Regions from separate parts of the Homo sapiens genome. Here region 1 is linked to region 2. Evidence: fine-mapped expression QTL. Tissue or cell type: whole blood. Region 2 holds a variant in brackets; the other region holds the start of a gene. All regions are shown on one strand. Distances are between the middles of the regions.

Evidence for each region. PIP is the estimated chance that this variant, and not a neighbour inherited with it, causes the effect.
Region 1: it holds the start of DNAJB6, and the variant in region 2 is fine-mapped to the expression of DNAJB6 in whole blood (TOPMed, PIP 0.98).

Annotation. Positions count from the first base shown.
Region 1 is chr7:157,335,539-157,338,440 of GRCh38, forward strand. It overlaps DNAJB6 (DnaJ heat shock protein family (Hsp40) member B6), which reads left to right and starts at 1,466. Exons shown (of 10, transcript NM_058246.4): 1 at 1,466-1,606. RefSeq lists enhancers at 914-1,416, 1,417-1,920, 2,649-2,698 and silencers at 1,179-1,338, 1,529-1,738, 1,799-1,988.
Region 2 is chr7:157,416,282-157,419,183 of GRCh38, forward strand. It overlaps DNAJB6 (DnaJ heat shock protein family (Hsp40) member B6), which reads left to right. Exons shown (of 10, transcript NM_058246.4): 10 at 1-1,158. Among named protein-coding and RNA genes, the nearest start is that of DNAJB6, 81 kb to the left of the region's middle. The variant A/G (reference allele first, on the strand shown) is at 1,246.

The DNA of each region.
Region 1 (2,902 bases), 81 kb before region 2:
TAAACGATCACGAATTCATAAGCGTTGTTAGTTCAGAAGGTGGCTGAGCAGGCCCCCGGAATTCAGTGTCAGCATGCCACAGGATCTGAAGTTCAGGAAAGGTGTAACAAAAAGGGATTTTTCTTTTTTCTTGAGACAGAGTTTCGCTCTTGTTGCCCAGGCTGGAGTGCAATGGTGTGATCTCCGCTCACTGCAACCTCCTCCTCCTGGGTTCAAGCGATTATTCTGCCTCAGCCTCTGCAGTAGATGGGATTACAGGCATGCACCACCACACCTGGCTAATTTTTTTTGCATTTTTAGTAGAGACGGGGTTTCTCCATGTGTCAGGCTGGTCTCGAACTCCCAACCTCAGGTGATCCGCCCGCCTTGGCCTCCCAAAGTGTTGGGATTACAGGCGTGAGCCACCGCACCCAGTTGAGATTTTTATTTCTTAAAGGAAAGGATAAGGTGGGCCAGGACTAAGACAACACAGTAGCAAACATCTGGCTGAATGCTGGAGAGGAAGACAGTGGGAGATCCAGGCCAGGCTCCATGGACGAACTGCTTGTTGGCTCCTTAGGCTTTGGGTCTGCGGGACCCTTTCGCTACTGGGAATGGGAGCCTGTCTGACTGCACTGGGTCTGAGACTCCCTGCTCCTGCTGGTCACCATCTACACGCATGTGGTGTTGGTCTCCAGGGTTAGAACCAGAACCCCTGAGGACGCGGGAAAGGCTAGGAAGCCTGGGGATGACCTAAAGTCCAGCTATCAAAATGCGCCGCGTTTTCAGAAAAACTACTGCCACGATTTAACCTAAAAAGCTTCATCTGTATTTTCTGCCACAGTTTGCTTCCGTTTCCTTCAGTCACTATTCCCTGGCGAAGTCTCCACGCGCTCCCGTTCGCCGGGGAACTTAGGGTATCCGGGCTTCCCTAAATTGACAAGCGGGGGCCGGCGCCTTCGCCCGCCTTCGCTGGCCGCCGCTTGGTTTGTTCTTCTTCTCCTTCGGGGACTTCTCCGCCCGCGCCCGCGCCCGCGCCCCAGCTTTCGTCCCGCTGTGCGGAGATGCCACCCAGCTCCACCGCAGGACCGCGGAGCGAGAGGCGGCAGACGCGCTCCGGGGGCCGCCGGTCAAGAGGAAGATGAAGGGCGCGACGACTTCGCGGTTTCCAGAATGGGCTCCTTCTGGCCCAACAATAAGTGCCATTTGGAATCTTCTCGGCCTTCTCTGTGCCTTCCGCGCGTCTGGGCTCCCCGGTACCGTAGACCCGGCCCCGAGCTCCGCCCCCTCGCCCTGGGCTTCCCCGCCCCCTCGCCCCCAGTCTCCTGGGCTCTTCGGGGCGGCGGAAGAGCCGAGAACCTTCGCGAAGGTGGGGCGGGCGCCCCCGAGGTTGGGCCCGCGGTATGGGCAGTGGAAACTGCGCATGCGCGGCGTCAGGGTCGGGCGGAAGTTGACGCCGCCGTGCCGCCGCCGCGTGACGCATTTCCTGTTTGTTGTTGGAGAAAGGAGAGAAAGGAAAGCGCGAGGAGCCGCCGCCACCACCAGCGCAGCAGTCCTGGAGCTGTGAGGAGATTCGGGCCGTCACCCTGCCTCCCCTGCGTCCCGCCACCGGCCGCTTCTGTCCTCGGTGAGGGTCTGTTCCGAGGGTCGGGGGAGGTCGCCTAGGGCCCCGCGCGCGCCCGGCAGACGGCGGACCTCACCCGGCGCCTGGCAACAGCGCGGGGGGTGACCGGGGTCGCCGGCCGGGGAAAGGACTGGACGGGGCGGGGGCCGTGGCCGGGGTTGCGGGGCGAAGGGTGGGCGGGGTCCTCTGGGTCAGGTCTGGGGCCGGGGCCGGGGCTGGGGTCTGGGGCCGCCCGGCCGCGTCCTCCCCGCCCGGCGTCCTTGCCGGAACGCGGCCCAGCCTCCGCGGCGGCGGTTGGGGGTGGGGCCCGGCCTGGGAGCGGCCGGCTGGGGCTCGGCTGGGGCTCGGCGGGGCCGGCAGCGTGGGAGGCGTGGAGCGCCTTCTTTTTCTAAGGCTCCCGCACTCGCGTCTGAAACCAGAAACGGGAGTGGCTTGCGGAGCAGGAATGCCGCAGCCGTGCCGCCAAGTTCGGAGGGAGAAGAAGCAGGTGGGGGACCGCAAAGCCCTGTTTCTAGAACTCCGGACGGATTGTTCAGAAGTTTGTGGAAGAGCAGGCTGCCTTTCTCACTCAGAATGTTTGTCTGCTTTGCTTTGCGTTAAAGAATCTGCACCGTAGTTGATGCAACTGAAGTTTATATAAGAAGTTTACATTAACTCTTACCTAAGGAAGGTCAGTGACACACGCAGTGTAAACTGCAAATCATATATTGGCTCGAGAAAGGTTTTGGCACTAGCGAATTTTTTAAAGGATGGGTTTGCTAGTCAGACGTAAACTTCTGTGCTAACTTCTCACGTAAACGGGGCAGGAAACAGCGCAAGTAGAACGATCGTGCCACCACCGAAGGGGTGCCGCCTGCGAGCTCGGAGGCTTCAGCCTGTTTGGGAAGAGTAGGCTGAGCGGCGCTCTTTGTAGTTTTCAACGTTTTTATTGAGTTGCGAATTTTAGTAAGGATTTGTCGCTACAATTTAAGCCAAATTATTGATTTAGTAGAAAAGTTAGAGTGAAGACCGAAGAAAGGAAACAGACGTTAACCATTAAAGCTTGATTGCTGCTGCTTCGTGTTTAACCGCACTTTTCCAAATAGTGTTGCGTATCAGAACGATTCATGATTTCTGAAAGGAATTATATGCAGCCGCCTTACTCCTCCGCCAGTCCACCCGTCCCGCGTTCTCTCTGGGTTTACTCCAGACTTCCTTTTTTTTTTTTTCCTGAGACGGAGTCTGTTCTGTTGCCCAGGCCAGAGTGCAGTGGCGCGATCTCCACTCACTGCAACTTCCAGCTCCCAGGTTCAAGCGAGT
Region 2 (2,902 bases):
GTGGCGGGGACAGACGTTTGGGACTTGGCCGCGACTCTCTGCTTCTCTCCAGCTCTCAATCTGCTGCATTTTCCTCTAGTGCTTCCGGATCCTCTTCATTCTTTTCGGCTACTCAACCACTCCGCATGCTGCTGGAATATTTCTGGCTTTAGAAGTACAGGAGGGCGCAGATGGCTAACTGAGTAACATTCATGAAATGAGGCTTTCTGTGGCGGCGTAGTGTTTGGAATTAGAAGGTAATTCAGTAGAGTGTAACTTAGAGAATATTGCAAGTGACACATTGAATCCTGCCCGTCAGGGCACCTTTTCCTCAGAGCAATCCGGCCACACGAATAGAAGGCTGTCGTGAATCACATCAGATGTAAAATCATTCCTTCTGTTTACTCTTTTAATTTTCATCCTTTGCAGGTAGTGCAAATTCAACTTCAAATATGGTGTAGGTTTTGCTAGATTCCATATTTTTTTCTTGGATTTTTGCTAATTATTTTTAGCAAAAAATTTTTGCTCAGTGGCACTCTCCCTAGTGTCCATGGGTTAGGGCCATGCTGGGGAAAACGGGCCGGTATTTACACACGCGCAAAACACCCAGAGACGGCACAAGGAGGTTGAACTCATGTTTCAGTTCGCGAACATTGACTCCTTACGAAAGTCACTTCATTCTAACTAGATGCGCCCACTTCCGGTCATTATTTCGTTTGCATGATGTATTGCTTCTTCACGTTTTGTTTTTATTGAGCACGGAGTAGAATTCCAGGGCTGCCTTGACTTCTTCCCTGCATGCTCCCTCCCAGTGACTTTCCTTCCCTTTCACATGAGGATCTGCCGTTCATGTTGCTTTCTCCTTTGTCCTCTTGGACTTGAGGGCATTGTGAAAAGCTTTGCTGTGATTTAAAAATGCCAGCAATTTTAATCTAGCAGTGTTGAAGCTGGGAATTTTTTGGCGCAATCCATGTAGCAGTGACCCAGGCTTGGGAGCCAGAAACAAGTGTGACCTGGGATTTTATTTAACACAACTGTTGCCAAAGAGTTGGCTTTGTTTATTTGGTTTTGGCGGGGAGAGGAGTGGTATTTGATGCTTTCTGTGGACAATGTAACCCTAAACACATCATGTATTTTAAATGCCACCTACATAAATAAAACATAAGCATATTGAATACAGCTCGCCTGCTGTCCTTTGTAAGCGCCAGTAAGTTGCACCGTTAAGACTGACTAGAAATAAAAGCAATTCTTCAACATTACGATTAC[A/G]AAGGATGAAAGTGGTGTTTTGCAGGCAGAAGCCTTGCTTCCGAAATGCGTCACTGTAAGGCGAAAACATGACTTTAAAGCTAACACCCCCGGCTGGGCAAAGTGGCTCACGCCTGTAATCCCAGCACTGTGGGAGGCCAAGGTGGGCAGATCACCTGAGATCAGGAGTTCAAGACTAGCCTGGCCAACATGGTGAAACCCCATCTCTACTAAAAATACAAAAAATTAGCCGGGTGTGGTGGCACACGCCTACAATCCCAGCTATTCGGGAGGCTGAGGCACGAGAATTTCTTGAACGAGGGAGGCGGAGCTTGCAGTGAGCCAAGATCGCACCACTGCACTCTAGCCGGGAGACAGAACGAGACTCCGTCTCAAAAAAAAAAGGCCGGGCACGGTGGCTCACGCCTGTAATCCCAGCACTTTGGGAGGCCGAGGCGGGTGGATCACGAGGTCAGGAGATCCAGACCATCCTGGCTAACACGGTGAAACCCCGTCTCTACTAAAAAATACAAAAAATTAGCCGGGCGTGGTGGCGGGTGCCTGTAGTCCCAGCTCCTTGGGAGGCTGAGGCAGGAGAATGGCGTGAACCCGGGAGGCAGAGCTTTCAATGAGTCCAGATTGCGTCACGGCACTCTAGAGAGAGCGAGACTCTATCTCAAAACAACAACAACAACAAAAAAGTAACACCCCAACGCACAGATGAGGTGGAAACTCCCGCAGCCTTCACAGGAGGCATTGAGGGTCCCGAGAGGAAAACCTCGTCGACTCACCCTGGCTCTGCTGGCGACCAAGACTGGGCCAGACACGCGCTCAGTGCTGACATCCTGGCGTCCGGCCTTCCTGGTGACAGGGGAAGGCGGTGCAGTAAGTCGCCTTGCGGGCCGGGGTCGGGGGTGTTTTTAAAACAAGATTAGTCCTTCTCAACTGCTCAGATCCCAGAATCTGCTGCTGAGATTGTGGCGAGGGAGGCAGGTGGTTCGACAGGTTTAGAGGTGACTGTTGTGCCCTCAACCCTGCCCACTTGACCCTCAGGCCGTCCCAGGAGCGTGGCCGGGCTGCCTCAGCAGGGGCACAGCTAGGGAGCGTGGACAGAGCCGCGAGCGCCTTCCAGACAAGCCAGGCCACACACAAGACAGGCTCTTGGCAAAGGGGCCAGAGCCCCGTCTTCACACGGCCTGGCTACCGAGTCAGCTCATGTCACAGGTGGGTCCTCCCTTCGCTGAGAGGGAGAGACCCCGACCCCAGGAGGAGAAGGGAGCTGGTGTCCATGGGGCCCGGCAGGTGCATGGCCAGCAGGTAGGCATCTGCTTCTCAGGTGAGGAGGGGTATTGGGGTCTACCCGACCCCTGCGCCCAGCGCCCCATCCCCCTAGGGCGGGTCCAGGAGCTCTGTGCTGCAGATAGAGCCCGCGGCTGCTTATGCCAGCGTCTGCTGAGGGGGTGGATGCTGCAGATAGAGCCCGCGGCTGCTTATGCCAGCGTCTGCTGAGGGGGTGGAGAGGGAGCCCGGCCCCTGGGTGTGCTCGGCAGCTGCTGAGATGATGGCAAGGGGGAGCGCGGCACCTGTCGTCGTCACCTTTGTGACGTCCCAAGCACTGGGGGGCCCTGCGGGGGGTGGGGAAGGCAGTGAGGTGCTGGTGGGTGGGAGGCAGGGGGGC